4 linked regions of the Homo sapiens genome follow. The protein of the gene in region 1 interacts with the protein of each later gene in a biochemical or structural test. Each region holds a gene or a part of one and is shown in the gene's direction. Other genes may lie near its edges.

The links.
Region 2: the proteins of BMP2 (region 1) and COL2A1 form a complex in vitro, tested with the Homo sapiens proteins (one study listed by BioGRID).
Region 3: the proteins of BMP2 (region 1) and BMPR1B form a complex in vitro, tested with the Homo sapiens proteins (3 studies listed by BioGRID and IntAct, with this or other methods).
Region 4: the proteins of BMP2 (region 1) and ACVR2A form a complex in vitro, tested with the Homo sapiens proteins (3 studies listed by BioGRID and IntAct, with this or other methods).

The regions. Positions count from the first base shown.
Region 1 is NC_000020.11:6,762,885-6,771,063, forward strand, and holds the start of BMP2 (bone morphogenetic protein 2 preproprotein), read left to right. Parts: upstream 1-4,801; 5' UTR 4,802-5,991; intron 5,992-7,235; 5' UTR 7,236-7,242; coding exon 7,243-7,588; intron 7,589-8,179. UniProt on the Homo sapiens protein: Growth factor of the TGF-beta superfamily that plays essential roles in many developmental processes, including cardiogenesis, neurogenesis, and osteogenesis. Induces cartilage and bone formation.
Region 2 is NC_000012.12:47,994,317-48,001,872, reverse strand, and holds part of COL2A1 (collagen alpha-1(II) chain isoform 1 precursor), read left to right. Parts: intron 1-319; exon of another isoform or gene 320-888; intron 889-1,747; coding exon 1,748-1,954; coding exon of another isoform or gene 1,955-1,957; intron 1,958-3,441; coding exon 3,442-3,458; intron 3,459-3,671; coding exon 3,672-3,704; intron 3,705-3,808; coding exon 3,809-3,841; intron 3,842-3,948; coding exon 3,949-4,002; intron 4,003-4,165; coding exon 4,166-4,267; intron 4,268-5,247; coding exon 5,248-5,325; intron 5,326-5,953; coding exon 5,954-5,998; intron 5,999-6,109; coding exon 6,110-6,163; intron 6,164-6,564; coding exon 6,565-6,618; intron 6,619-7,395; coding exon 7,396-7,449; intron 7,450-7,556. UniProt on the Homo sapiens protein: Type II collagen is specific for cartilaginous tissues. It is essential for the normal embryonic development of the skeleton, for linear growth and for the ability of cartilage to resist compressive forces.
Region 3 is NC_000004.12:94,753,244-94,761,076, forward strand, and holds the start of BMPR1B (bone morphogenetic protein receptor type-1B isoform b precursor), read left to right. Parts: upstream 1-4,711; 5' UTR 4,712-4,825; intron 4,826-7,833. UniProt on the Homo sapiens protein: On ligand binding, forms a receptor complex consisting of two type II and two type I transmembrane serine/threonine kinases.
Region 4 is NC_000002.12:147,917,809-147,925,364, forward strand, and holds part of ACVR2A (activin receptor type-2A isoform 1 precursor), read left to right. Parts: intron 1-638; coding exon 639-784; intron 785-2,421; coding exon 2,422-2,536; intron 2,537-5,164; coding exon 5,165-5,303; intron 5,304-7,556. UniProt on the Homo sapiens protein: On ligand binding, forms a receptor complex consisting of two type II and two type I transmembrane serine/threonine kinases.

The DNA.
Region 1 (8,179 bases):
ATATGCCATATATTTTATATGTATTTACCCGTAAACATGTTGCATTTCTTCCATTGAATTCTAAGTAAATTATGTGCAGAGATTATGTACTTTTGTATTAACTGGAGCCCAATAACATAGTGCCGTGGGCTTTGTAGTTGCTCAATAAATATTTGTAGACTGTATGTAAAAGGAAATACTATAGTTGACTCTTCACAGTCTATTTAACAGAAAGTCAAAACATTTTAATATCATTGACAAGGTATGCAAATGTATTAGTATATGATAATTAAATAATATGTAGTGGATATTTAAAACAATCGTACTTGGCCAATTTGGCCTGGCTTAGGCTTTGCATATAAATTACCCCACTCCACTCATCCTTCCTATTATGTCTAATCAAATGCAAAATAGGTAAACATTTGAATGACTAAATGCTGCTCTTTTGCTGTGGCTCCCGGGGTTCCCATGAAAGAATTTCATGGAGGTAAAGTAATCAGAACCGGTATTGGGTGTTGCACTAGTAACAAAGTGTTACTCATGCTAAAAAGCCAACAGGCTTCTCAGGGGAGTCTTATTTTGAAGACTATAATCATTTTCCAGAAGCATGTGCTCATTCAACCCATATTTTTGAAATCTACCAAGTGCAAAAGAAAATCACATAAGATAAACTCACATCTTTCGAGAACCAGAACCGATGGCCTTAATTTGCATGTATATAGTAATACAAATTTGCAACCTTTTGTTGTCTTCACACATATCTTCTCATTTATTCTTCACAACCTCCATGAGAAGTCAACTGTTAGTCTCTATAGAGTATTCATGAGGGAGCCGAGGCTATGAGAATTTGTTACTGCCATAGATCAGAGGTCCCCAACCCCCGGGCCATGAATAGTACTTGTCCATGGCCTGTTAGGAACCCCCAGGGGCAGGTGAGGGAGCATTACTGCCTGAGCTCTGCCTCCTGTCAGATCAGCAGCAGCATTAGATTCTCATAGGAGCTCAAACCCTACTGTGAACTGCATGTATGAGGGATCTAGGTTGCATGCTCCTTATGAGAACCTAACTAATGCCTGACGATCTGACGTGGAACCGTTTCATCCTGAAACCATCACCCCCAACCTGGTCTGTAGAAAAATTTTCCTCCACAAAACTGGTCCCTGGTGCCAAAATGGTTGGGGACCTCTGCTTTAGATTGACTGACCCAACTGGTGGCCTTTCTGATGAAATATCCACTGTTTGGCAATATAATAAAAGCTGGGAGAAGAGAAGGAGAAGGAGGAGAAAGAGGAGGAGAAGAAAGGCATCCAAAGTCCTATTTCTTAAAACCAGGCCATATTGCAGACAGAAGGCCAAAGAATACATTTGAAGATACATAGAGTGAGTAGCAATCAGAAACTAAGTTCACACATGTTATCCATTTGACCTTCATCATGTCAGTCTGAAGCAAGCAAACATATATTTATTTACCCCAATTAACAGATGAAATGACCATTTTAAAGTCAGTCATCCATGACAGAACCAGGAATTAGAACCCAGGTCACCCAACTACATCTTAGAGTGTTATCAACATAGTTTACAGACATAACTTAAGGTGTACATCTTAAACTGTGTGACAGTCTAATCAATGCACAAAATTCATTCTTTTTAATTTTTAAGAAGATGTAGTTGGTACTTGCTGAAAGCAGTGATCCTGATTTGGCCAACTTGGCCTAGTTTCTGATATAAATCACTCCACCTCTCCCATCCTTTCTACCATGTCTAATCAAACACCAAAAAGGAAAACATTTGATTGACTAAATGCTTCTCTTTTGCCTTGGCTCCAAGTTCCTGTAAAAAAAACTTCATCCAGGTAAAGTAAGTAGGGATGGTTATGGGTGTCACCCTTGTAACAAAGCGATATGTATGCTAAAAAGCAAAGAGGGTTTCTCAGGGCAGTTGCCACAGGTTTCCATGGAATGACAATTACAAGGTAGATGGATCACGTAATGCCTGCTGTGAACTTTACAATACATGGGGATCACTATTTTAATGTTGATTTGCATAATGTTTGGCCTAGCAAGAACAATACTGAATGCTAATAGCTACAGAATGCAATAAAATGGAATATCATGTGAGCTGAAGTGCTAAAATTGCTAAAGTATGACTGTAAGCAGTTAATTTCATCCCGAGTCTTGTCCACACACAATCAAATGCAAATTTCCACTATCTCCTGAGAAACTGCCAAGAGATGACTGAAATGGAATAGCAACAACCTCCTTTATGTGGAATCATTATCTGGTCATCTTTGCTTTTTTACATAACTTGTCTGTACCCTCTGATGCATTTGAATTTGCAACTTCTACTATCCCTATCTTAAACAACTCCCCACTCCCACCTCTGCCCCTTCCACATTTGCTGGCAGATGCACTAAGTCTGATAAACTCAGCAAGACTGAATCTCACCCTCTGAACTGAAAAACTTTGAATGGACCTTTGAAAACGGTAGAATTGACAATGGTTAGCTGCAAGTGATATTTTCAAGGCAAACAGACACTCTCCCAAAGTATTAAATAACCCAGCATTCTAAGTTGCAGGTGGAAGGTAGCCATTAGTGAAGAGAGAGAAAAAAAAAAGAAATAGCTCGTCTGTATTTAGATTTATCATTTCTGACTATTGCTCTTCCCTGGAAAACGGGTAGGTACAGTCATCCTGTACTTCGATCCCAAATCAGTCTCTGGAGACTACTTATTTATTTATTTATTTATTTATGGACTTCTTTCTTTCAAGCGTTCGAACTCATTTCCACCACAAGAGGGCAGCCATCTCTAAAAAAAAAAAAATAGGGCCAAAATTTATGTAAGTTGTGCTTGGAACAAGCATTCAGTAGTTCCTCAGAAATCATACACCCTACATAAAAGAGATTCTGCAATGGGCAGCACTAACATGAAACAGTGTTCAGAAGTACCCATTTTCCCTCAGATTCTAAACTGACAAGGTTTCCACTTACCAGGTTATGAAGTTCTAAAGCTGCAAGACATCCTTGAGGTCATCACAGGATATTTATTTATTTTTTCTTCGGGTGCATCCAATAGTTATCAACTTTTCCTCCTCTTTAAAAGCTACTTAAATCTCATTGAAGTTTTGTTTTGTTTTGTTTTTGAAATCTAAGTAATGAGAGAAACAATTGTTAACTTCTCAATTAAACTTGATAGGAAAGGAAATAATTTCAGAAGCCCTGTGTCCATGAGTAGGATATGTTTTATTGCCTCCTTGTTTGCGGTGCAATGACTCTGAGTGACAATCAACTTCTATAGCACCTTTTTTTTTTTTTTCAGGAAATAAAGTAGCATGTTCCTGAATAATTCCCCCACCCCCTTTTATTTTCCTGGTAGTCAGGCTTCCTCCAAAATACCTTATTTGACCTTTATACCTTTAGAAACAGCAAGTGCCTAATTCGCCTCTGTGGGTTGCTAATCCGATTTACGTGAGCGGAACCTAGTATTATTTTAGCTCCCCTACCGAAAAAATAATACACATGGATAATAGTTCTATTACCAGCTCCTGCTTCTGACTTTTTTCTCTCTGTTTCGCAGGCCCGATAGCTCTGGGAAAGCAGAACTTGGCCTTTTCCAAAAATTTTCTGCCCTTGGTTTTGGGGATCATTTGGGCAAGCCCGAGGTGCTGTGCATGGGGGCTCCTGGAATCCTGGGAAGGGCAGAAAGCCTTGGCCCCAGACTCATCGTGCAGCAGCTCTGAGCAGTATTTCGGCTGAGGAGTGACTTCAGTGAATATTCAGCTGAGGAGTGACTTGGCCACGTGTCACAGCCCTACTTCTTGGGGGCCTGGTGGAAGAGGGTGGCGTAGAAGGTTCCAAGGTCCCAAACTGGAATTGTCCTGTATGCTTGGTTCACACAGTGCGTTATTTTACCTTCCTCTGAGCTGCTAATCGCCTGCCTCTGAGCTGGGTGAGATAAATATCACAAGGCACAAAGTGATTGTACAATAAAAAAATCAAATCCCTCCCATCCATCCTTCAGTCTGCCACACACGCAGTCTACGTTACACACATGTCACGTAAAGCAGGATGACATCCATGTCACATACATAGACATATTAACCGAAATGTGGCCCTTCGGTTGCATATATTCTCATACATGAATATATTTATAGAAATATATGCACATATTTTTGTATATTGGATATATTTATGTAACTATAAATTTACATGCGTATGGATATGAAAATAAATGCATACACATTTATGTAAAAAAATTTGTACACATGCATTTACATATGTAAATACATACATCTCTATGTATTAATGTTTAAAAACACTCAATTTCCAGCCTGCTGTTTTCTTTTAATTTTCCTCCTATTCCGGGGAAACAGAAGCGTGGATCCCACGTCTATGCTATGCCAAAATACGCTGTAATTGAGGTGTTTTGTTTTGTTTTGTTTTTTGAAATCGTATATTACCGAAAAACTTCAAACTGAAAGTTGAATAACGGGCCCAGCGGGGAAATAAGAGGCCAGACCCTGACCCTGCATTTGTCCTGGATTTCGCCTCCAGAGTCCCCGCGAGGGTCCGGCGCGCCAGCTGATCTCTCCTTTGAGAGCAGGGAGTGGAGGCGCGAGCGCCCCCCTTGGCGGCCGCGCGCCCCCGCCCTCCGCCCCACCCCGCCGCGGCTGCCCGGGCGCGCCGTCCACACCCCTGCGCGCAGCTCCCGCCCGCTCGGGGATCCCCGGCGAGCCGCGCCGCGAAGGGGGAGGTGTTCGGCCGCGGCCGGGAGGGAGCCGGCAGGCGGCGTCCCCTTTAAAAGCCGCGAGCGCCGCGCCACGGCGCCGCCGCCGCCGTCGCCGCCGCCGGAGTCCTCGCCCCGCCGCGCTGCGCCCGGCTCGCGCTGCGCTAGTCGCTCCGCTTCCCACACCCCGCCGGGGACTGGCAGCCGCCGCCGCACATCTGCCGCCACAGCCTCCGCCGGCTACCCGAACGTTCTCGGGGCCAGCGCCGAGTGGATCACCGGGGACCGCGAGGCACCCGCGCGCCGCAGACCCCGCGCGGGCTGGAGCACCCGGCAGAGCGCGCCACAGCGCCGTGGCCTCTGCTGCCCGGGCTGCGCCAGAGCCGCGGACGGGCGCGCAGAGCGCCGGGGACTCCGGAGCCGATCCCTAGCGCCGCGATGCGGAGCACCTACTGCAGGAGATCGGGGGCCTGGGACGCGCTGGCCGAGGTGTGATCGGACCCCAGGCTAGCCACAAAGGGCACTTGGCCCCAGGGCTAGGAGAGCGAGGGGAGAGCACAGCCACCCGCCTCGGCGGCCCGGGACTCGGCTCGACTCGCCGGAGAATGCGCCCGAGGACGACGGGGCGCCAGAGCCGCGGTGCTTTCAACTGGCGAGCGCGAATGGGGGTGCACTGGAGTAAGGCAGAGTGATGCGGGGGGGCAACTCGCCTGGCACCGAGATCGCCGCCGTGCCCTTCCCTGGACCCGGCGTCGCCCAGGATGGCTGCCCCGAGCCATGGGCCGCGGCGGAGCTAGCGCGGAGCGCCCGACCCTCGACCCCCGAGTCCCGGAGCCGGCCCCGCGCGGGGCCACGCGTCCCTCGGGCGCTGGTTCCTAAGGAGGACGACAGCACCAGCTTCTCCTTTCTCCCTTCCCTTCCCTGCCCCGCACTCCTCCCCCTGCTCGCTGTTGTTGTGTGTCAGCACTTGGCTGGGGACTTCTTGAACTTGCAGGGAGAATAACTTGCGCACCCCACTTTGCGCCGGTGCCTTTGCCCCAGCGGAGCCTGCTTCGCCATCTCCGAGCCCCACCGCCCCTCCACTCCTCGGCCTTGCCCGACACTGAGACGCTGTTCCCAGCGTGAAAAGAGAGACTGCGCGGCCGGCACCCGGGAGAAGGAGGAGGCAAAGAAAAGGAACGGACATTCGGTCCTTGCGCCAGGTCCTTTGACCAGAGTTTTTCCATGTGGACGCTCTTTCAATGGACGTGTCCCCGCGTGCTTCTTAGACGGACTGCGGTCTCCTAAAGGTAGAGGACGCGGGCCAGGGCCCGGGGTGGGTGGTGGGTGGGAGGGGGATTTGGGCAGCCACTGCGGTAGAGCCCTTCCTTACGTCCAGGCCAGAAGTAAACAGACCCCTCTCCAGTCCACGTGCAACGGAGCCCTGCAGGGGCTCCCACTTCCAGCTGCCCCGGGCGACCGTAAGCCTCACCCTCCCGGCCCGCACTCTTCCACCCCTCTTTCTTCCCCTCTCCCTGGAATACTTTTGGAGCTGTTAACACTTAGATGAGGTGTTTTATTTATTTATTTATTTATTTTTAATTTTTTTAAAAACTTTTTTGGGTCAAAGAAATCCCTTTGAGAGGGTAGCCCCTGGGTTTCACCCGTTAGCTGAGAACCTGTCCGCTCTGCCATGGTGATCTCCATTCTTCAAGTGTTTCCGGGAGACTTGGTTTCTTTGCTCAGAGCCGTGTCCCATTTAGGAAAGTACTAGGAGTTTGGGGTTCTCCCTACTTGTTTCCAGAAATGCGAGGGGTCAGTACTGAAGGATCACTTGGTACTGTGTTTTTAACAGCTGACACGTGCATTAATAGATATTCACCATTTACGTAATCCCGGGAAGATACATGTGTATCTTGACTGCACTGTGGGGATGCGGGATGGAGCTGCCTTTCGAGACACCCCTGAGGGTAGGGGCCTGGGACACAAGTCATAAGTGGCTTCAGAAGTTGTGGCCTTGAGCTTACAGGGTCTGGAAGCTATAAGGGTGTGTGTGTGTGTGTGTGTGTGTGTGTGTGTGTGTCAGGAAGTTCTATACAGTGCCTCTAAGGAAGTCACATGCACCATTTATGTGTGTTTATATGCCAGACAGCGCTCAGCACTCCGCATTTGGGTTTGTATAGGGGACGCAGGGTGTCAGATCAAGCGGTGGTTTTCCCAGGTTCCCGGCATTGGCTGTCAGCGCTGTGTCACACACAAAAAAGTGACAGTCATTGGCGCTGGTTTGGTTGGGGGGGAGGGCAAATCCCAAATCTGATGTCAGACGAGCTAAGCGTTGGATGGGAGCGATAAATCATCTGGTTCAGGAACTTGGGACCCTTCATTATCCCAAACGTTTGAGCTTCGGTCGGTCTTACCTAGACTCGTGAGTGTGCCAAGCCAGGAGGGCATCCTGGAGGAGGCACGCCAGCCAAATGGGAGACCGGGCCGCGGGGGCGCGAGGGGGGAGGACTGGGCGGGGAACTCGGGTGACTCACGTCGGTCCTGTCCGCAGGTCGACCATGGTGGCCGGGACCCGCTGTCTTCTAGCGTTGCTGCTTCCCCAGGTCCTCCTGGGCGGCGCGGCTGGCCTCGTTCCGGAGCTGGGCCGCAGGAAGTTCGCGGCGGCGTCGTCGGGCCGCCCCTCATCCCAGCCCTCTGACGAGGTCCTGAGCGAGTTCGAGTTGCGGCTGCTCAGCATGTTCGGCCTGAAACAGAGACCCACCCCCAGCAGGGACGCCGTGGTGCCCCCCTACATGCTAGACCTGTATCGCAGGCACTCAGGTCAGCCGGGCTCACCCGCCCCAGACCACCGGTTGGAGAGGGCAGCCAGCCGAGCCAACACTGTGCGCAGCTTCCACCATGAAGGTGAGGCATGGAGCAGGGCGTGGGGGCGGGGAGTCACCCTGCAAAGCCCTCCACCGTGGGCAGACTGCAGCCGTCCCTGTAGAGGCAGCTTGGCCGGGGCACCAGCGGACGTTTCCACTCTTGCTTCTGTACTATCGTTTCTGAATCTGATTTTAACTCACTGCTTGTGTGGTGGGGGAGCCAGGGATTCCCCTTTAGTAACTCCGCACCCTCTTCCTGGCTTGCAGCCAGAAGAGCTACTCCTCCTGGAAGAATTGGAGAGAAATCAAGTGATGGGGAAGATGAGGGCAAAAGGCATGCCTCTAGTCAGCTAAACGTGCAAGAATTCCACAGAGGGAAAAGGAGAAAAAGGGAGGCAGATTGAGATTTCTTTAAGTCTGTTTGGAAGCTTTTGCTCTATAAATCTGCCGCTTAAGCCAGGGTTTTAGGGTAGACAGAGCCAAGGGCAGAGTTTTCAGAGATAGTATTGAAAAATCAAAGCCCAGGGCCCCAAAGTCTTTCTAATTTATAGTTGATCTGGGCCTGGTTTGGAAGATTTTGAATCCCAATCTAATCCCCGTGGGAGATCAATACTACAATCAATCTTATTGT
Region 2 (7,556 bases), on another chromosome or scaffold:
GGAACCGGATCAGGCGCGCCGGGATGCTATCGGCAGCCGTTTTGGAGCAGCAATTATGGTGGTGCTGGGCTCCTCCGTCCACACCTAGGGGATCCGGTTACGGCGCTGGCTCCTTTCTGGGGCAGTCATTTAATCCCACTTTTCACTCTCCCGGTGTCTGTGAGCGAGCCGTGTCCAGAGCCGCAGCCACAGAGTCACTCAGCGGCTCTTACACCCAGCGCAGCCTGGCCCCGCCCCTGCGCCGGCGCTTCCCGGGCCGCCCTTCCCCGGGAAATCTGATCCGCACGGGGAGTGGCCCCTCTCCTAGCATTTCCCCCTCTCCTCCCTGGGTCCTCATGGGCGAGGGTGGGCTCTCCTGTAGTCTGGGCTGGAGCGCATTAACCGATGCCCCCTCTCCCACACCTTCCTCACCGCCTGCATTCCACTGCTCCAGCTATTTTAACGGCGGGTGTGTCCCCGCAACTTCTGTATTTTCCCTGGAATCCCTCACCCTCCTGTGATTATCTTGCCCAAAGGCTAGGCGGATTTCTTCTAGTGGGAAAGTAAAAAGGAAAGTTTATCTTTGGATTTTCACTCTCTTTAAAGAGCAGTGGGCAGGCTCGTTTCTTTCTCGCCCTCTGGGTTTGTGGCTCTTTCCTATTATTCATCCCCTGCTGCTGCTATTGCCTTGGGGATTTTGATGAGAAAAACAGCGCTGGGCGCTCCCTAGCACGTGGTGCGGGCTCTACAGCCCTTGGCTGCTAAGGAGCGCTCTTGTCAGCACAGGTTTCATTTGCAGCATGAATTCCAGACGGCAGGGCGCTGGTGGAGGAGACTAGTCCCTGCTATTCTTCCTCTGCAGTCTTGGAGGAGGCCAGGCCTGGACTGGCCAATCTTAGCCCTAGCCAGGTATTCAACGACCCCTGCTCCCCAAACTGGGGTGCTGTTTTCAGATGGAGGCAGGGCCTCTCCAGGCAGGGCTACAGGTGGAGGTCAGCACTGGGGGCGCTTTGGCTCCACTGGCCTCCTAAGCAGTTTATTAGCCTGCCCAAGCCCCAAGTGTATTGTTTGAATGGGTCTATCCCCCTCCCCAAATTGGTCCTAATTCTAATATGGTTCAAAGAATGAGACAAGATCCTAATTCTAATAGCTCGTCTTTTCACCCCCCTTTCTTATATACCTATTTTTGGAGCCTCACTGCTTATAGATTCCAATTTTTGTAGGTAGAATTTTCTACATTCCCTCTGAATGTTAGTTGTCAGTTGTATTTAGCTAATCCCATAATTCCCAGAGGAAGGCAGAAGAAAGAAGACTTCTCTGCTCCTGGGCTGGTGGAAGGGAGGTCTCGCCATTTTTCTGTCTCCTTTCTTTTTATAGTCCCAGAATTCCTATTCAGAATATCTTGTCTCCTCCCTTCCGCTCACCCTCCAACTCCCTCCACCCACTCCATCACCTGGTCTCCCCCGTATTAGGTGGGTAAAGAGAATATAGTATAGTAACCCCCCACCTTCATTGCTGGGTCAAGATTTTCACTGGTGAATAGACAACATGGTGCAAGGTGCATAATAAATATTTGTTGAATACATGGAAAAATCAATGATGTTTTAGGAAAATAATTTTTAAGTTCTATATGTCCAGGTGGCCCCAGCCTACATTCTTCAGCATTTGAATTCTGTCAAGTTGACTGCAACCTCTCTCTTTTTCTCTCTGGCTCCCCACCCCCTCCTTCCCTTGGCTCTCTGCTTCTCCCTCCCCACCCTTGGTGCAGAGGAGGCTGGCAGCTGTGTGCAGGATGGGCAGAGGTATAATGATAAGGATGTGTGGAAGCCGGAGCCCTGCCGGATCTGTGTCTGTGACACTGGGACTGTCCTCTGCGACGACATAATCTGTGAAGACGTGAAAGACTGCCTCAGCCCTGAGATCCCCTTCGGAGAGTGCTGCCCCATCTGCCCAACTGACCTCGCCACTGCCAGTGGTTGTAATTTATTTATTTCCTGTTCAACATAAATAAATTACTTGCAAGCACTGCAAACACGCTCCCATAGATGCTGGTCGTCTCTGCAAAGCAGAGGGGCTAGTTATCCATGGGACCTGGTAGCTGGGGTAGAAAGGAAAGGCCACTTCTCACTTGCAGGTTGAAACTGAGTGAACGAGCCTGAGACACTAGAGGGGTCCTTCTTTGCCCAACATCTCCAAAAACATTTGCTTCCAAGACACATGAAGGACAGATGTGATTCTACAAAAAAAAAAAAAAAAAAATCCTCTCTGAAATCATCTCTGCAAATTACTAGAGCCACTATGGAGATCAAATGCTCTGTCTGGCCAATCCACGAATTAATTCCTCCTCTGCCACCGACACCTTGTCTTCTCCTTAGAAGACTTCTATGTATGTGGTCTTCAGTGTGGAGAAAGCTCTGCCAGCTAGTGGGGAGACTGCAGGGGCAGAGGCTCCCTCTTTGAGTTATGGAACATTGGTGGTAGTTTCCTCTCTGCTATTACCTCTCTTGGAGTTGACCATTAATTCAGAAGCAAAATAATAGGAGAGGGAAGGGCTAGGCTTTGGGAGTTCTCGTGGGGACGGGTGGAGACAGAGCCCCATGTATCTGCACTGTAGTGGGTGGTTATAAACTCCCAGTTAGATCCAGTGCTGGTGGATGATATATGTGCAGGTGACCCCTTCCCAGCATTCATACAGATGTCCTATCTCCCTGCAGAGTGAGTGGGGACGCTTGTGTAGGTTTTTTGGGTAGCTCTTGCTGTCCGCTTCCTGCTGAAGTAGAGAAGGCCGTGGCAAGGGAAGTGAGAAGCTGCCTTTCCTTAACACTTCACCAACACTGGCTCCCTAATGTGCAGATTCCCAGATCCTTTCTGAGGGGCCCGTGTGAGTGAAGTGTTGATTGCCTTTACTATTTTGCTGCTACTGTGAAGGAGAGGTTATTGACTGGGGATGGCACAGGCTATGATGCTCCGATGCTCTTCATAACTCATATGCCTTGCTGTTTTTGTGTTTTTATTTGTGCTTGCTTCAAGGAGACCCAGCTCTAATGTAAGACCTTTCTAAGTACCTAACTCTTCCTCTGGGAGGGCTTGGGGTTCGGGAACGGCTCCCTACCCTGTGGGGGGAAGAGAGACTGAATCTGTGCTTTCCTTCTTGTGGCTGATTAGATCTTGAGCTCTTCATTGCCTTTTTGTGCTGCCCTTGCTCCTTTCTTTTGCATGCTGCCTGCTTTTTGAATAACAAAGTCTGGGTCACCTCCATTCCTCATGGGACCTCAGCAACCCCAGGGCCACAGTGGCCCTAACACCCCAACAGAGGGGTTCAGTGGAGTCACAGGAAGCTGCCGCCTTCCTTGATTGTGTCCTTTTACTTGTTTGATCTAATGAGTGTTTGAGTGACAAGAATAGGTATTTTTCCATCTCAAGATTCTTACCTTCTTCTTCTCTATATTTTTTCCCTTGCAGGGCAACCAGGACCAAAGGTAAGGGCTTTCTTCTTTTTCTTTTTTCATATTTTTTTGGCTTTATATTTTCTGCTTCAAAAGCAATGCTATGTTAATCCAGTCTGTGATTTTTTAGACATCAGAAGATATCTGTTTCAGAGGGTACCTCAACACAGGGGCTGCTGGCAGGGTTTTAGACTAGGGGCTTAGTGGGCTTACTCGGCTTAATCCTGTGAATGTTTCATGTTTCAGGGACAGAAAGGAGAACCTGGAGACATCAAGGATGTAAGTGCAAATTATTCTCACCCGGTATTGCAGCTGCTGCTCTAAATGGGTCATTTCCTTGTGCTCTCCTCTAACTTACCATCCTGTGGGGCTCTCTCTCACAGATTGTAGGACCCAAAGGACCTCCTGGGCCTCAGGTAAGAGAGGGAGAAATCTCTTTCTCCGTCCCTTCCTCGCTGCGCGCAAGTTACTGATCTGCAGGCTCCTGGCCTTGCTGTCATCTTACCATGTTCTTCACCTTCAGGGACCTGCAGGGGAACAAGGACCCAGAGGGGATCGTGGTGACAAAGGTGAAAAAGTGAGTAAAAAGCAATGCTGCTTGACCCTGGTGGACTTCCCAGGTCCCCCAAGGCCCCACCATGTGTTTAAGGGCCTGGTCACCTCTTAAAGAGCAGCCAAGGGACAGATGGCTCTTGGAGAAACACTGCTTCCCATTGATGCCTTTTTCTCTTTATGCCAAGGGTGCCCCTGGACCTCGTGGCAGAGATGGAGAACCTGGGACCCCTGGAAATCCTGGCCCCCCTGGTCCTCCCGGCCCCCCTGGTCCCCCTGGTCTTGGTGGAGTAAGTATCCTTACTTCCCATTCCTTCAGGCTGTCCCTCCAGAAATGTGGCTTTTAAATTGCTGCTTGCACTTACCTGGCTGGCTCCCAGGGCTGCCAGCAGTGTGTACATAGCCTGTCCATGGGCTTTGCCCTCAGGCCTGTAATTTAGAAGAGTCACATATTAGGCATGAGACTGTGGTGCTAAGGGCTGGCTTTTTTCACTAACTGGGATTCTATAAAGAAAGTCCTCAGTTACCTGGCTTCCTGGCATCTGTACCACGTAGTTGATGCTGGGGGGTGGGTGTAAGGGATAGGAGGAAGGATGACTGGGCACTTGTATTTCCCTGGAAGACGAGTGACCACTGTCCTTGGAAGACATTTATCCTTGGTTCTTGCCAAGTACATTCCAAGCAACTATTCACTCTCATGAAAGAGCTCCACTGAGTGAAGGTGTGTGGCTAAAGTCAATTCTGGAATCAAACCAATCAACAAATTATATGATTGCCTAGTTTTTGCAGGTTTGCTATTTTGATGTTTGCTGTATTTTAAATTCTTAAACTCAAATGGGATCACAGATGCCTACTACATCTCTTGCTGAAATATTCCAAGACTGTTGATTTTAGTCTTTTGCTGGGCACTAAAGTCTTAAAGAATAAAGAACACCCTTAGAAGGTTTGGTTATGTTTCTCCATATACGTTAAATAACATCTGTCATATTTTAGAGCATAAAAATAATTTTATAAAATGAAATGCAAGGAACTGATACTTCCTCAAATAACACTTTCCCTTCCAGTGAAATGATTTTGCCACTGTCATCTAATAATCCATTCCCAAAATTACTTTCCAGGCATCAGTGGTAATTCTGATCAATGATAGGTTAGTCTCCAACAATCAGAGTTTATCTCAGTAGAGTTCTTTGTATCCATATAGAGCTTACCTAGCCAAGTAGGGAAGACCTAGTGCCTTTCAACCTCCTAACGTTGTTGGGTTTCTTTGCAGAACTTTGCTGCCCAGATGGCTGGAGGATTTGATGAAAAGGCTGGTGGCGCCCAGTTGGGAGTAATGCAAGGACCAATGGTAAGAAAAGACACTAGTTCTTTGCAGCCAAAATGGCAGGAGGTGGCCCTTAGCAGAGCCAGAGAGTCTGACAACCTCTGCTTTACAGATAATTGCTTAGAGTGGCTCTCCTCCGTAGTTATGTAACCTCCCATTCAGCTAGCCCAAAGCATTTGGTTTTTAATGGCAATGGATGCCACTTTTAATGATGCGCTGGAGTGACTAAGAAGAATGAAGATGGGGAGATGCATATAGGCTGATCTGTTAGAAGACCAGTTGCTATTGCTCTTGGAATGAGAACTGAAGAATGCAGACAGCAGCTACTGTTCTCCAGCATCCACAGACTTCCAGCAGGAAATCTCAGCCCGCAGCTCTGACTTGGCACATGCTAAATGAAACTCAGCCTTTAGTAAACATGGCTGCTGTCCAGGAGAAAGCAAGGCCAGCTTTTCTGTCCAAATGGTGCCTATAAATAAAAATAGAGTGTTGCGTGGGGAGTGGGAAATGAGAGGGAGCAGCCACTCTAGGCCCCTTGCCCACAGAGTAACTTCTTGTCCTTTGCCCGGGCTGTTGGCTGGGAGAAGATGGCACACTGGAGGCCACTGAGGAAGCATGTGTAGTAAACCCCTCATTTTCTGTTCCGATGCAGGGCCCCATGGGACCTCGAGGACCTCCAGGCCCTGCAGGTGCTCCTGTAAGTATCTGCAATTCTTTTTGCCTCCATCGTGTCGCAGATGATTCCCAAGCACTATGATGTTTTAGCAGTTTATAGGGATTGACCTGGTATCCTCATTTTACTTTTTAGGGGCCTCAAGGATTTCAAGGCAATCCTGGTGAACCTGGTGAACCTGGTGTCTCTGTGAGTACCAGCACGGCCCTGTCCCTTCTCTGGGGGAGCCTCTAATGATAGACCACTAGGACCGCAGCTGCTGTCCCTCCCAGGCTCTGCCCAGCTCTTTCCCACAGTCGGTGGCCCCAAGGAAATTCGGATGTCACTTCCTAGCTGTGGAGGAACTCTGACAGACAGCCCAATGTGGCAAGGACCACCAGGGACTCTGTCCTAACAGCCCCCTTTCCGGGTCACCCCAGCCTGTGCTATCTGCTGCGTCCCACTATGATCTCTGCACCTTTGCTCTGACCTTCCCATCTTTCTTCTTCATAGAAGAACTGGCTTCCAAAACTACAATGTCAAAGTTTTGTCCATTGCTTAGGTGTCTTCCCACTATAACCATCTCTTAAACTATCTTCCTTTGTTTGTAGGGTCCCATGGGTCCCCGTGGTCCTCCTGGTCCCCCTGGAAAGCCTGGTGATGATGTGAGTATACACGAGTAGACAAATGAGGAGCTGCCTCCTTTGAAAGGGCCTGGAGAGGGTGTGTGCTTGGGGAGTGACAGGGAGGCACCCAGGGTGGAGGTATCTTGAGGAGCAAGACTGGGCAGTCCCAAACCCTGACGCCATCTCCTATCTATATGGCCACTGTGACTGTGCTGGCAAGTTCCCTGGGGACCGCTTTGGATCCAAGGGGAAGACAAATAATTAAAACATCATTAGCCCCAGGAAGGGAAATTGAGAAATGAGAGAAGGGAGAGAAAAAATACAAGGCAGAAAGATGTAGAGAAGGAAAAACAAAGAAAGAAGCGTTCAACAACCCAGCATTATCTTAATTGTAAATGAGTTAGAAAAAGCACAGCCTGAGTCAGGATGTCTACAAAGGATGCAAACGAAATGAAGAGACAAGAATTGGCACTCTTGTGCTATTTTTATGAATTGCATTAGACAGTAAAAGTCTCTTGAGGTTAGAGAGAGCACATACAGTCAGCAGAACCTAGGAGAGGAGAGAAAAAGCCTCTCAGGGGAAGTTGGAGGCTGGTGAGGACAGAGGAGCTTGCCCATGGGCTATGCATGTGTCCAAAAGAATAAATGGTGACCCATGAAAGGCATCCAGGCACGTGGAGTCTGAAGGAGGTGAGGGAGATGAGTGAGCCGGTAGGCAAAGGCATGGAGGGCTGGAAGGAGGGAAGCCCTCTGGGGTGCCCCCACTATGCTACTGCGTCTCTGAGGAAGCTGGGATATCTCTCTCTCTCCCTTCAGGGTGAAGCTGGAAAACCTGGAAAAGCTGGTGAAAGGGGTCCGCCTGGTCCTCAGGTAAACGCCACCGTTCCCAGCCTCAGGCATCTTTCCTAGCGTCTCCCTCCCTGTGGCCTTAAACACAGTGCATCCAGTTCAATGAGGTCACTTCTGAGATGAAACGC
Region 3 (7,833 bases), on another chromosome or scaffold:
CAATGTCTACTTAAAAAATTATCAGCTGGGTGCAGCGGCTCATGCCTGTAATCCCAGCACTTTGGGAGGCCGAGGCGGGCAGATGGCCTGAGGTCAGGAGTTCGAGACCAGCCTGGCCAAAAGTGGTGAAACTTTGTCTCTACTTAAAATACAAAAATGAACTGGGTGTGGTGGTGCACACCTGTAATCCCAGTTACTTGGGAGGCTGAGGCAGGAGAATCGCTTGAAACTTGGGAGGCAAAGATTGCAATGAGCCGAGATCACACCACTGCACTCCAGTCTGGGCAACAGAGTGAGACTCCATCTCAAAAAACAAAAACCAAAAAACATTCTCAGTGCTATAGAAGCAGTTTAGTGCACTGGTTAAGACTGAGATGCTGCAGCCAGACAATTCATGTTTAAATCCTGCCTCTTCCAATTTCTAGCATGGCCGTGGGAATGTTATCTAACTTCTCTGTGCCTTGCTTTCCTCAGTTGTAAAATGGAAATAAAATAATACCTTATTATGAGGCCTCAGGTTGATAATAAATGTGAGCTACTTAGTAGTGTGCCTGTATCATGGTAACCACTCCATAAATGTGGCTTTTATTATGGAAGGTACACATTTCACCAAGTTATTATATTAACAAGCAAAAATTTAAATACTCTGTTTGTTGAGAGGCTTAACCACTTATTTTGTATATGTAGAGTCAACATGTAGCAGTGGACAATAAGACAACCACAGCAGTAGGAACAGAAGAGCAAGAAAAAGATCTCTTTCTTACACTGAAAAATATTTCCTTCACCTGATTCCTAAAATACCATACCTGAAAAGAGGCAGACTTTTATTCCACAATTAGAGAGAAATAGTTTAAAAGCACATGTTCTAGAATGTTACTTAGCATTGTATGCCTTGATTTATGACAATATATTAATGGTGGTCAAATCCTTTACCTTCAGTTTTGAGAGAAGAGGGGGGTGGAAAAGGAAAGTGGTAGGAGTGAGGATATCCATGAAGAGGAAGGAGAAGGGGAGGCTGACAGCATAGAAGCAAGCTGTGTCCCCAGGTCTGTCCTATTTCTCTACTTATAAATTCCCCAAATAGTTCAATTCCAGTGGGCCTGGGCAAATGTCTTTCTTAATGGGAAATATGCCTGCAAGTGTTTGAGAGTCCTATATACACTGCCCTGGTTTCCTTATGTAGAAGCAGAGGGGAAAAAAATCTTGCTTTTGCTAAAATTTGTCATGCACCCAATGAAGCCCCTCCTTTCTATTCTTCTCCCCCCAGTGGTCTCTATTTACTTATTTATTTATTTAGATATGGTGTGGGCATGTGGGGGTCTCACTATGTTGCTCAGGCTGGTCTTGAACTCAAGGGATCCTCCCACCTCTGCCTCTGAGTATCTGTGACTACATGCATATGCCACCACATCTGGCTCCTATGGCCTTTAAAGGCACCAAAATCCAAGGCTACAGTTAGCAATATAGGAAGTGTCTTTTGAGTCTGCTGTCTTGGTAGTTACACCATTGTCTTGGTTCAAGTATTCCTTCTTTCAATGACAGACCCTTAATTAGTTTTGTGCTTTCATTTCTCCCTCTCCAGGTACCTCTAAATGATCTCCTGAAAATCCCAGTCCACCATTTGACTCCGTGGCTTACAAATCTCCAGTGCTTCTCCATTACCTAATAAGGAAAAAATCAATTTCATTAGTATGTTTGAGAAGGTTATTTCTGAACCCTGCTTAGCCTAAGAGAGTCATCTGCTGCACCTTCTCCTCATCACTTGGATAGCAGCACTGAGATACCAGCTGTTCTCTAAACACGCCATGCTTTTTCATAGGGTTCTCCTTGCTTAGGATGTTTATTCTCTTTCTAGCCCCGCTTTGATCTCTAAAGATCCTTCAGGACCCTTATGAAATGTGACTACTCTAGGAAGGTTTTCCTGAGATTTCTAGGCAGAATAGTTCATTTTTCTATGCTCCAAAAATTGTGTGTTCATGCATTAATGCACTTCTCATAGAAAGTTCTATATATTTTTTAAGTATCTTGTTTCTTCTGTATTATGAGTTTCAAGAAGGAATGGACAGAGTTTGCCTCTCAAATACCAGGACTTGGTTTGTCATAGGCACTCAAAAATGTTGATTTTTGAATAGCTTCTTTCCAAGGCTCCCCATTCCTGCTTACAGAAATGTTACCATCTAAGGCCCACCTCAAACACAGTTTCCCCTGTACCCCATTTTCTCCCACCTGGAGTGCTTTTTTTTTTTCATCCCAAAGACCTACAGGAATTTCCTTTGTTCTCTGATTTGGAATTTTAAAAAATATATTTAAACAAGGTATTTAAAAAAATCTGTCTCCTTGTCTGCAAGTTGATTGAAGTGGAATCTGTGTCTTCTCTATCCAGAGATGCCTGTATTCCCTGAATCAGTATCTTATACCCAGCAGATTCTCTGAAGGATATTTGCTGAATGGAGGAGTTAAGCCAAGGAAAGATAATCCTTAGTGCAACTTCTGAAAAGATACAGGTGACAATACCACTAGCTCCAAAACATTCTGCATAATGTCTGCTTTATTTCACTGCAGTTTATGAGTGCTCCAATTCTAAGGGAGATTATACAGCTGTCAAATACAAATTATCAGTAATTCACACAGTAGAAAGGATAGATTCAATCAGGTTTCTTTCCTCTTTAAACTTGCTTAATGTTGATGAGATATTGACAATGATCAACACATTACATTTTTAGTTCTATGGATTTCCAGTAAATTCTCTAAGCTTTTCTATGTATACAATCATAAGCTCTGTAATGAATTATAATTTGGTATCTTATTTTCAATATTTAAAACTCATATTTCTAAACTCACATTTCATTTTCGATAATTTATTATTTTTAGTTAATTACATAATAGCTCATAATTCCTTGCTTTGTCTTTTATTTTAATGGTGTAGAAGTTATAATTTCCGTGTCTTCAAGCCCCCTTCTCCCCACAAAACACTTAGTTAATATGAGGATGGAGATGATGAAAAATTGGATTGAGGACCAGGTAGAAGGTAATTTAGGTAGTCATATGCTTTATTGTTTTGAAAGAAAGGAGGTGGAAAAGGGAAGGGGTGGGAGTGAGGGTATCAGAGAAGAATTGGGATGAGAGTAAAATGAATGGATTTTATCTTGGAATTCTTGGGGCAAGAGGATGAGTACTGGTACTGGGGACTGGAACAGTGGTTGAATAAGGAAGGTCAGATGATGTCAATGACTAATTTCACTTGTTTTGGAAATTTTCTTTCAGATACCTTTCTTCTTCCAGTTTGGCATTAGAAATCACAATGCAGATATATCATGGGGCAAAAAGACCTTTGTGGAGACTCTAACATTGCTTTTATAGAAAAAACATGACCACATCTTCATACACTCAATAAACACTGGGGGCACCGCCTGCTTTAAGTGCAAGCTGCATAAAATAAATTGATACACAAATGAATTTTTTATTGATAAGTGCAAAAAGATTACATTTAATGTTTAAAAAAGATTTAATAGAAACAATTTAAGAAAAGGGAGTAGTTGAAAGAAAATAGTAGGCTAAGAATTGAATATAGAAATAGATATGAAGAAAATTGGAAGAAAGTTACTTCAGGGTGAAAAACTGTTAAAAAAAAAAATGACTTAGATCACACACTTGGTGGTGACCAGAGACTGTTTGTCAATATTTTGGAGGAAAAAAATTTTACAGAAGGAGAAAATAAGTAATGCTGGAGAGTGGGAAGCTGAAAGGTATTGAAAGGAAAAGAGTATTTGGAAGTCACGAGATATCTCCCTGGGAAATAGAGTTGGCAAAATGGCTGATTTTAAAGAGGTTAACTATTCTCCCCAAATTTCTGACTGTGAACTAGCTTACTTTATATTTACCCACTTAGAAAGTGTTTCAACACTTAAAGACTTAGCAAGGAGACCACAAAGTATAAGACGTTACATACTTTTCCAAAAGAAACACGACTAACTGTAAACTGTCATCAAATACAAATGGAATGGGTTTTCTCTTTTGGGTTTTATTTTTTTATTTTTAATTTTTTGGTGGTTGTTTTCGTTTAACGGTTTCAAAAAATATGTAGAAGGGAAATATTTCATTTCCCTTGGACGCTCAACTGTATATATTTCAAGATTCTTAAAACCCCCACCTCAAACTGCAGGCTTAATTTTAATGTGTTCATTTTTTACAAGGTGTGTCAACGTTTTATCAATTTCTGAAAAGTGTCTATGGCCCCGAAAAGTTGAAATCCACGACATTATATCATCTCTGCGAGCCCTTTCCAGCTCTCAAGGTACAATAATTCCACGAATCTTTGTTCTTCAAACCAGGAGGTTTTCTGGAAACCTTCTTAAACAACCAGGACAGGACCCATGAGGGAAATCTTGGGGATGCTCTGAGCAGCGGACGGGGCTTGGGAAGCGCACCCCTGTACCCGGGCTGCCTCCGGCCCGCACCCCGCCGCTCCCCAAGTCGGCTCCGCACTCCGCACACAGGCGGCGGCGCTGGGGCCGCTCCAAGTGCGTTGAGAAGTGTAATCCCTCCGCTAAGTACTTGGCTCTCAGTCTCCAATCACTAGTGGGAGCTGGAGAGGGCAAGTGAAAAAAAAAAATTCCAGAGGCAGCCGAGGAGCGAGAGGGAAAAAAAAAAAAAAAAAAAAAAAAAGTCCCGCGGTGGCGGCGGCGGCGGCGGCGGAGCGGCCGCGGCGGCCAGAAGTTGACGGCGCAGCCGGGCGCGGGGCGCGGAGTCGGCGGGGCCTCGCGGGACGCCGGGCAGTGCGGAGACCGCGGCGCTGAGGACGCGGGAGCCGGGAGCGCAGCCGCGGGTAAGGCGCGCGCGGCGGGGCCCCGTCCCCTGCGGGTGGCCGAGTTCCCGAGCGCGCGGGAGGCGGCCGAGCCGGCGAGAGCCGGGCAGAGCGAGGGGCGGCGCGGGACGGGTAGCGGCTGGGTGCGGAGCTGGGCGGCGGTCGCCCTAGGCAGGACGGAGCGCGCGAGGGAGAGGGCGAGAGCGAGGGCGGGCTGCGCGGCCGTGGGGCGGTGGCGGCGGCGGGGAGGGGGTCAGGCGGTGGCCGCCTCGGCTTTGTGCGCGGGCGGCTCTGCCGGGACCCCGAGGCCTCGTGCCTGCGCAGGCGAGGAGTCGGGGCAGCGGCGGCGGCGGGCGGGACACGTGCTTCGGGCTGTAGGGACGCCCCAAGGCAGGGAGTCGGACCTGCGAGCGGAGGGATGGGGCGGGAGGGCGAGCTGAGGGCAGTCGCGGAATCCGGGAAATGGGAGGGAGCCCGGCGGGGCGGGGGCCCAGGGCCAGCCCAGGCGGGACCCGCAGGCACCCACCTGCCCCGGACGCCTCCCGAGACCCAGCCTTGCCGTGGGGGAAAGTGCGCAGCGGGCTGGTCCCGGCGCCTTGGACTGGGCTCCGTCTCTGCTTCAGTTGCCTGTCTCTTCTCCTCTCTCTCCTGCTTCTCTCTCTCTATGCCTCTCTCTCAAGTTCTGGGTCTTTCATTCTCTCCCTTTTCTTCCTTTCTCCCTTCCTCTCCTTATTGCTATCCTTTGCCTCTCCCCCCGGTCTCTCTTTCCTTCCGTGCGTCTGTCTCCCTCTCCCCACCGCCTGCTCTGGCTCTCCCAGTGTGTCCCTCCTCTGTCCCTTCATCCTCTTCCCTCTGTCACTTTCGCACAATCTTTTGGTCTCTCTCTCTCTCTCAAGAGGCTTTCGCTCCCGGTCTTCCTGGCTCCCCTGTCTCTTGCTCTCTGCGCCCATCTCTCTGCTCGTCCCTCTTTCTGTCCAGGCTCCGTGTTTCCGCCTGTGTTTGGCGGTGTTGGAGAAGAGCCTCTGGAAGTTGTCCGCTGTGGTGCGGGTCTTACTTCTTTAGAGCTGCACCCCTCCAGCTGGGTCCTGCTGTTTGTTCTGAATGGAAACGCTGCAGTTCCCTTGAGTTATTAGAAACTGCTCTTTTCTTAGCCACCTTTCCAGCAAGGTGAGGTCAGTGACTACGAGCGGCCACAAAGGTGCCAGTGAAAGACAACGGAGGAAGAGAGCCGTTTCACTACCTCCAACAGATAAAGAAAATGTGTTAATACCAAACTTACCTGCAGCAAAGCAGAGCCACCTGAGAAAAGGTTCTTGAGTTCTGCAAAGAAACATAAAAGGCTCCACTGGAAATGAGAGGGTTCAGCTAAAAAGTGTTTGCAAATAATTTGAAAAAGCACTTAATGGAAATCTCTTGCTGTGCTAAATTGATGCCAACGAATCTCTGTTTTCTTACATATATTTTTAGGATTCCAGTGACAACTCTCCTAATTATTGTTTTGGGCAAGTTATGGGAAATGTCCTGTGTCAACTGGGATGTTAGTATTTAAGAAAATATTCAGTCTTTGTACTTTATACCCCTTTACACTCTAGTGATCAAGAAGAATTATTTCTAGCTGTAAAGAAAATAGTAAAGGATTCGTCAGTAATTTTAAAACATGAGACATGCCGGTGATCAATAATGTTTTTGGAAAACTTTCATTATAAGGATGTTTTGAAGGATGTTACATCTTAGTGAAATATGTAAGTTATTACACACTTAGATCATTGTGCAATGCAAAAAAGTTTGTGTTATAAGCAGATCATAGTAGTGATGTCTTTTTATGGGAAACATAGCTGGGAAATTAATTGCTCTGATTTTCACTGTTTTCTTTAGTCATGCATAATGTACCTTTGTGTTTAGCAAAATATGGCCTAGAGCTACAAAACTTGATACAGTGTGTTATTTGTCCAATCTGAATTACCATTTAGAAAACCACCTTTTCCTTTTAGTTACATGATATAAGTTGATATGATCTCATTACTCATGTGCTAGGGGCCGCTGATGAATTTTAATGGCACTGATTTGTGTTTTTAAATCAAAATGTTAGTTTTTGGTGAGTTAAAATCTTGATTTATGTCATGTTAGTGAATCATCACTATTTATAGGGGCTTTGCCACCTTGTCTGCCAGGTGCTGCCCAGCATTTAGTCTAGGCTAGGTTGTCTGAAATTCCCTGTTAGATTATTGTCCCTGAGTGACGTGCTGCCACGGCCTGCTTATGTATGTTTCTCTAAATGTTCCAGTCGTTAAATAATATTTATTAAAAGGAAATTGACTTAAATTTTTCCTCATAAGCTTTGGGAACTGTGTGAGATGGCCTGATAAAGTATTTTTATTACAGTAAATGCTGATTTATTATTATTTGTTTAAAAGTATAAGGCAGTTTAAAATGTGCTTATCTTTTGCCACATATAGCACCTCCTCCAGCTCTTTCTGAGCACTCAAATCGTATTTATCATCCAAATCTAAAGTCAGTTGTCACCTACTCCAACCTAGCAGAGCCTTCCTGATTTTCAGAAGCCCCCTCACCACTGCCTCTGCCTCTCAGGCTTCTGAGTGCCCCTCTTTCGGTGTCCACCTCTGTGCTGTATGGTTACTTGCTTGGCGCTTCCTTGTTGGACTGTTATCTCATTGAGGTGAGATAGTGTCCCTTGTTTCTTTTTCTCTGAATTTCAGATGCCCAGCACAGTACCTGGTATGTGATAGATACTCAAGAAATCCTTGTAGGACGATTGGTTCTTTTCCAAATTACCTCTAACTTGTGATACTGATTCTTTGTGGATGCAGTAGCTCAAGGAAAATACTTAAGAATAGTGTAATAGCAGATCATAGACTTAGGATTGAAAGAGTCTTAGCATGTCATCACACACATTAATAATATTAAAGATGAAGAGGATGAGGCCCAGAGAGTTTGAAAAACCATGCTCAGAAATAGAAAGTGAGGCTAGGATGGCTATGGAATTGAGACTTTACTTTTTTCACGGTGCC
Region 4 (7,556 bases), on another chromosome or scaffold:
AGTCAGGAAATTTATCTGATCTTTGATCTGTCACTAACTTGCAGGGTAATTATCACCAAAATGTAATTGCTAGTTTTCCTCAATTTTTCTACTTTTAGAGTCAGTGTGAAAGTACCATTAATGAAGTAGGAAATTATGTTTTTGGTAATTGGTTTCATCATTGTGAAATGTAAGTGGTTCTTTTACTTCTCTTATCTTGACCTAAAGGACAACAATAATCTAGAGGAATATTCTACATATTAGTTGTTATTTTATGTTGTTATTTTGTGTTCTGCTAGTCCCATGATATAACAACTCTATAGTCAGGATATTTTAACTTTTAAAATATTTTCTAGAACCTTAGATTTTCAACTAGTCTTTAAAAAAAAAAAAAAACAAACTTGTCTTATAGATTGGTGGAAGTTGACTATTCTTGTAACAAAAGTTTAAAGCTCTGGTATTTCCTTCTGGTCAAATGTTTATTAATGTGAAATGGAAGGAAATTTGAACCATTTGAACCATTCCAGAAAGATTGTTTCTTGGATATTATTTTTCCCTGAAAGGGAAACTCACAACCTCTTATAGGTAAAAAGAAAAGTCTCCTTATACATATGGCCTTTGTCAAGAACATAAGTTTCTTTTTTTCCCTCTTTTTTTAGGGTTCACTATCAGACTTTCTTAAGGCTAATGTGGTCTCTTGGAATGAACTGTGTCATATTGCAGAAACCATGGCTAGAGGATTGGCATATTTACATGAGGATATACCTGGCCTAAAAGATGGCCACAAACCTGCCATATCTCACAGGTAGACTAAATTTATATTGTTTTCCCAGATAATTGAGTATATATTTACTAAACTTTTAAGCCCCTGGGTAAATTTTAATTTTTCCTTTGTTATGCAATCATGCTTTACAAGACAGTCAGTTTTCATTTGTTTTTTAAAATTAGCTTTGAGATTGGCCAGGAAGTATTTTGGATAATGTATATGTTAACATTATTGGTAAAGTTTAATGATCTACTTCATCTCATTTCTGAAAGCATGATTGAAAATAAACTATATTTTCTCGATCTCAAAGGAAAAAGACATTTGTTTTACCTCAAAACATGATTTATCAATAGGGATTATTATCCAAGGGCATGTAATGAAGGAGAGACTTTGAATGTCTTCCTTGCTTGTTTTTTGAATGACCTTATCTGTACCCTGAGCCAAGTCTTAAAGGGAGGCATCACTTAAAACAGTTGTCCAGTGAAGAAATACTACTTAGACCCAACAGTTGTCATGCCCGCAAAAGGAAAAATGATTGTGTCTTAAACATGGAATTCAGTTTGCCATGTATTTAATTTTCTTGAACGTGGGATTCAATTTGTTGTCTTGTGTTCCATTTAAAGATGGTTGTTTGAAAAGTAGGCATTAACTGATTCACAGAACAGATACTTAGCTGAGTGCCACCAGGCGATGTTTTAGGTTGCTGGGAGGCATTATTGTAAGTCAGCCTCTAATTTAGGTTCTGATTTTGCAAACTTTAAATGACGTCTACCTCAGAAATAACTCTTCTCACTTTCTTACATGCAGTCTATTGGCCTCGTCTTCGATTTTCCCTTGCCCTACCTGGTCACATAGGGAATTAATCCTTAAGGACCCCCAAAGTTATTAAGGGCCTGAAAGTCTTTTGAAACTAAGATCGATTAGCTTTTATAGCATTTGGGAGTGTCTGCTTGTGCTTTCAGTATCCCATTATTGGTCTATATGTCTGCACATAAATTTAACCACTAGTCATTGGCATAGATGTATTTAACTAGGGTATAGTAATCTCTAGGATGAGCCAGTTGAGACAGGTGTGTAGAAGAGGATATCTTACTGCCTTAAAACTGTTACCCTTTTCAGAACACCAGGATCTAGCTAGAGCAGTGTATGTTTATGGTAAAAAGTTTCTGTTATTCATTCCATAAGATGCTTTTCTACAACCAGGTGGAAGAATATAAGAACCTCTATAATAAGGGATTATTCTAAAATGTAGGTCTCTACCAATAAGCAGAAGGCCCCAATTCAGCTATTTTTTAAAAGTTTCTTCATTTTGGTTTAAAATTTCTGTTTCTATGGGAGTTTGCAAATCAGAACTCTGAGATATTAACAGTAGTTTTATGATTGGTAGGTGGGTGACATAGATAACATATCTTTTTGGTATGGCAGATTTTTATATAACTGCTTTATAGGTAGGATTCCTTCTTATTGTCCATGTTATGAATAGGGGTTTGTCACCGTGCTCTTGTGTTTAAGGCTGCATGGGGCTCTGAGCTTTGTTTGTCTCACTTTCTCTGCATTTCATAATTTTAAGTAACTATTTTTTCATAGTGTACATATTCCCCCTTTTCTGCTTTCAATAAAAAATTTAAAAAGGTAACTAGTTTAAACTTAATTTGAATACTCTTTTTATTTGCAAGGGACATCAAAAGTAAAAATGTGCTGTTGAAAAACAACCTGACAGCTTGCATTGCTGACTTTGGGTTGGCCTTAAAATTTGAGGCTGGCAAGTCTGCAGGCGATACCCATGGACAGGTAAGGATGATGATTATAAAATGTAAGAAAAAATAAACTTGTTCCATATTTTCTTAGAATGGCATGTCAGGACTGAATTAGTCTAAAATTGTTGTGGTGTTTAAATCAGCATCTAATAGAGTTATCAAAGTTTCTGAGGAAGACATTTTCATATGATGGTAGAGGACTCAGGTGGTTTAGATCAAGCACTTCGTAAAGCAACCCTTAGACACACGTCATAGGATTCTTTTTGAAAAATTGATCAAAGAATAATCCACCACCTTTTAACAGACCTCATTCTTAGGGAATTCTTCGTATGAACTCCGTAGTTTTAGTCTGTTAGTTCTTTCACCATCTTAAGAAGAGTGGAAGAATAATTAGTCACTGTCCTTACTACAGTGTATTAAGATTTCCTGTCCATTTTCCCATGCAATAATAGTTTATTGCTTCTTGTTGTTTATTGCTTCATTAATTTCTTTAATCAACTTGATGGCTTTTCTCCAAATTCTCTCCAGAGTTCAGAGCACTTGTAAACCCCTGAATTAGGTAACTCTTCACACCTCTGTATATATCCATATGCACAGAAATCTTAGTAATGGGAACCTCTAGGAAGGCCAAAAGGGAAAAGAACATTATCCATACAGTTTATTCTCAGAAACTTTGAGGCTGGAAAAGATGTTTTCATTCCTGCAAGATCACCTTTTATTTTTATTTATTTATTTATTTTTGAGACAGAGTCTCGCTCTGTCACCCAGGCTGGAGTGCAGTGGCATGATCTTGGCTCACTGCAGCCTCTGCCTTCCAAGTTCAAGTGATTCTCCTGGCTCAGCTTCCTGAGTAGCTGGGATTACACACATGCACCACCATGCCCAGCCTAATGTTTGTATTTTTAATGGAGATGGGGTTTCACCAAGTTGGCCAGGCTTGTATCGAGCTCCTGACCTCAAGTGATCCTCCCACCTCGGCCTCCCAAAGTGCTGGGATTATAGGCGTGAGCCACCACGCCCAGCCAAGATCACCTTTTAATCAGGGAAACCAGTTCAACCTAAAAGGTGACATTTTCTACAAAGCTAAATGGTTCAGGCCTTCGACATTATCATTTCTTCATCTTTCATATCATGTAAATTATTTGGCCAACTAATTCTTAGGTTTCTTTTCCCCAGCATATCCTATTGGTTCCTGAGGACACGTTTTTAATGTCATGGCACCACCAATTTTGGCAGTATTGACTAACTATTTAAGAATGTAGTTTGGGGTAATGGTCAGTAGCCATATAGCTCTAGAAAAGTTGACTGCAAATGTGTATGGGAATGGAGGCAATTTTGTGGAGAATACTACCAAGATTGTGTAGGAAGCCTGAGGACAAACTTCTAAGCTAATTGAATGATAGACTATCATAAGACTAAATTCTGGGAACATATTCTTAATTTGGTACCTCATAAGCCCTCCCTCATTTTTTGAGAAAAAAAATTTCTGACTCATTCATGTCATATTTTTAACTCCTTCACAACTGGGTTTTATGATTAGTTAAAAATTATTGGCTTACAGTAATGACTCCTTGACTTTAGATTTCATGGACCAGAAAATTTCAGAAATATTTGGAGGGACTTGCATGTTATTGCACATTTTATATAGTACAAAGAACACATATAAAAGAGGGAACATTTTATGTCAACATGGTAAATAAACCATAATCTTACAATAAAAGAGGTAGGTACCTTGGATGGCATACATTTACCTGTAAGAGAAAAGTAGGCTTTAGGGAAACATTCACTGATAGCACAATTAAAATAATTATTCTGAGTAGTAAATTTTTTAAAAGTAGAGCCACTTTTCCCTTTAATGTGTTCTCCTTGAACTTTAGTCTTAGTGATCTGTCTTTATTCTTAAAAAAAATCTTTACATGTATATTTGCATAAATTGCCCAACTTTTAGTCTAGAGTAGAGATTATAGCCACCTAAGGATGGAGCGTTATGGACGTACCAATATCTAGACTACTCTCTAGTTCGAATACATCGCAAGTATGTTGTGATGTACCCAGCTATCTCACAAATATTTTTAAGCATTCATATATGAATGTTGTCAAGCACCAACCAAAGCTAGCTGTACTAGCTTAGTAACCATAGTTACAGTACTAAGAAATACCAAATTGTTGGGGACAGTTATAAATAAAGGACTCCAAGACAGAAGAATTTATGAATAAACAAATACATAGATTTTGTACAGATAGAACTTTTTAACATCAGTCTGTCCTTTACTTAGCTAATTCTTTTTATAACATTTTATTAGTTTTTTTAATACAGAGAAAAGACCTCAAAAAAAGTTTTTTTTTTAAAGCTACATTTCAAACAGTATGCAAAGGTACAGTTGAAAAGTATGCAGCATCCTTCTCCCAGCTGACAATTGGTTCAGTTTCTTGTGATTACATCCAGAAAGGGGAACATAAAAACTTCTAAGTCTGTACCAGCATAATGTCTGTTGATATATTTTTTAAGTATACGCAGAAAGGATCTTTCTATTTATACGCTATAGTGTGTATACCTTACCCTGGTAATAGACCACATTTGGTTTTGATTCATCTTACAAAATCATATGTTAGTTCATAAAGTTAATGAATGAGTACTCTTTGCTTTTAACATCTTTTTCAGGTTGGTACCCGGAGGTACATGGCTCCAGAGGTATTAGAGGGTGCTATAAACTTCCAAAGGGATGCATTTTTGAGGATAGATATGTATGCCATGGGATTAGTCCTATGGGAACTGGCTTCTCGCTGTACTGCTGCAGATGGTAAGGGAAAAAAATATTTTTAAAAAAGATATATATGCCTACCACACATATATGAAAAGGGATGATACACTCCAAGGTAATATTTTAAAGTACAGTTTTTTTTTAATTGACTCCAAGAGATGGTAGAGAATTCAGGAGGCAGGGGAGCAGTGGGTGGGGTAGGAGAGGAAAGGAATTGCTATGTATTGATCCTTTACCATTACTAGCTATGTTGCTGGACACTTCACATACCTTAAGGTTATTTCCTAAAACGGTTTCAGAGGTAGTTATTATGCTTTACATATGAGGAAATTGAGATGCAGAGAAATTAAGTAGTTTGCCTACTTTAGCCTCAAACTGGTGAATGATGAAACCTAGATTTGAAACTCTGATCCAGACATAGGGAGAGGTCTGCTTTAAGGTCATATGGGTCCTGCCCCCCAGGTTAAAGGGTTTCTATTACTTGTTCTTGTTATTGAAGTCCATGTTCAAGTCTTATAGATATTTGCTTTTATTTATTTATTTTTCTGGGTAAATTTTCAGACGATATTTCCAGTGTGACAGAACTATTTTAGTGTTTCAAGCACTGTCTTTAGTACTCCTTCATAAGGTCTTTACTCTGTCTTCAAGTATGTTGCAGCATTTTTTGTTTTGAATAATATAAGGCAAACTTGCCGACTGCTAAACTCCTAAACAGATGTAAATGAGCTTGATCTGTTTCTTAAGTTCTAATTTATAATTGCCTAAAAACTTCCTGTGATTGTCAAAGACCATAGAAGAAATTGTGAATATTTTAAGTTATAACCAATGTAACCTATGTTACTAACAATATTTTATTTTCTGAGTACTGTAATAGGCTCTCGTTGTAGGACAGACTGCCACTGGAATATGAAATTCAATATAGGGTACTATTAAAGGGAATTTAATAGAGTGTTCAGAAATGGGCATTCTTCCAGGATTGAGGGATTGGCTTGGGAGTCAATGCCAAACCTAAGAAAAGTTGAAGCAATTTTGGAATAATTTCAGAAGTCTTTAGGAAGAAGCGTTAAGAACGCAGAGTGTTTTGACTCTAAGAGGAATGACATTTATGATGTGCATTTATGGAAGCAGAAGTAGGTTAGATGGCAGATGTTATAGGAAAATATATTTTATAAGAACTTTATTAATATGAACTCTCCATAACAAATCATTGGATTAAGTAATTTAGGAGACACAAGACCTTATTCTCAAGTAATATACAGTTTAGTTAGGGCAATAAAATATATCCTGGACAATTAACTCTAGAGTAAGTTAAGTGTGAGTTGTCTGGCCCATTCCCCAGTACATAGGTATTCAATAAATGTTTCTGGGTTAGTGCAATACTTAAGAAATACAAGCATGTGTTTTAGGAGTTTAGGGGAGAAATTGCTTTGTTTATGGGGAAGAGAGGTTTCAGAGAAGTTCTTTTGGAAAAAGAAAAGGCTAGATACTGACTTTTCTTAAATGCCATGAAATAATTTCAGAGTCAGGCATTTCTGACTCTTAAGTCAGAACCCAATTGTTAAGTCAGAAATTGGGGTAGAGAGGATAGTGTGAGCATTGATTGCTAAAGTAGGTGCTTTCACGTGTGTTGATGGTTACTTGTTTGTTAAATGAAGTAATTCTCAAACTTTAATGTGTCATACCAGATTCTTAGGAATCTTGTTAAAATTTAGATTCTGACTCAGTAGGTCTGGGTTGAAGCCTGAGAGTCTACATTTCTTAAAAGCTAAGCTACCAGTTGACGGCAGTGTTGCTGGCCTGTACACCACATAAGTGTTGAATAGACACCTTAGAATGTCGGTACTTTGTCACTGGAAGTACTCAAGCAGAGACCAACTGTCCAGCCATAGATAATTCTTATATTTGAAGAGGGTTAAGTTAGATGACCCCTTTATGATTCATTGTATTCTACCCAGGAGTATTTAGTGCATTTCAAGAGCTTCACAAAATTTGTGTTTATGCACACATACATCTATCTGGTCACTGATACTGCTCAGTGGTGACCTGTGTCTGTCAAAGGAAGGCAATCCAGTGATTAAAACCAGACTTCAGAGTTATTTAGAGAGTTGGGTTCAATTCCAGCTCTACCGTTTAACAGCTGTATGTCTTTGTGCAAATTATGTAACTTTTCTGAGCTTCTTATCAGTAAATAGAGGTACTGCCATCTTAACCCTGTGAAGTAAGTAATATATGTAAAGTTTCTGATCAGGATAGGTGCTTACTGGATGTTAGTTATTATTAACTCCTAAATAC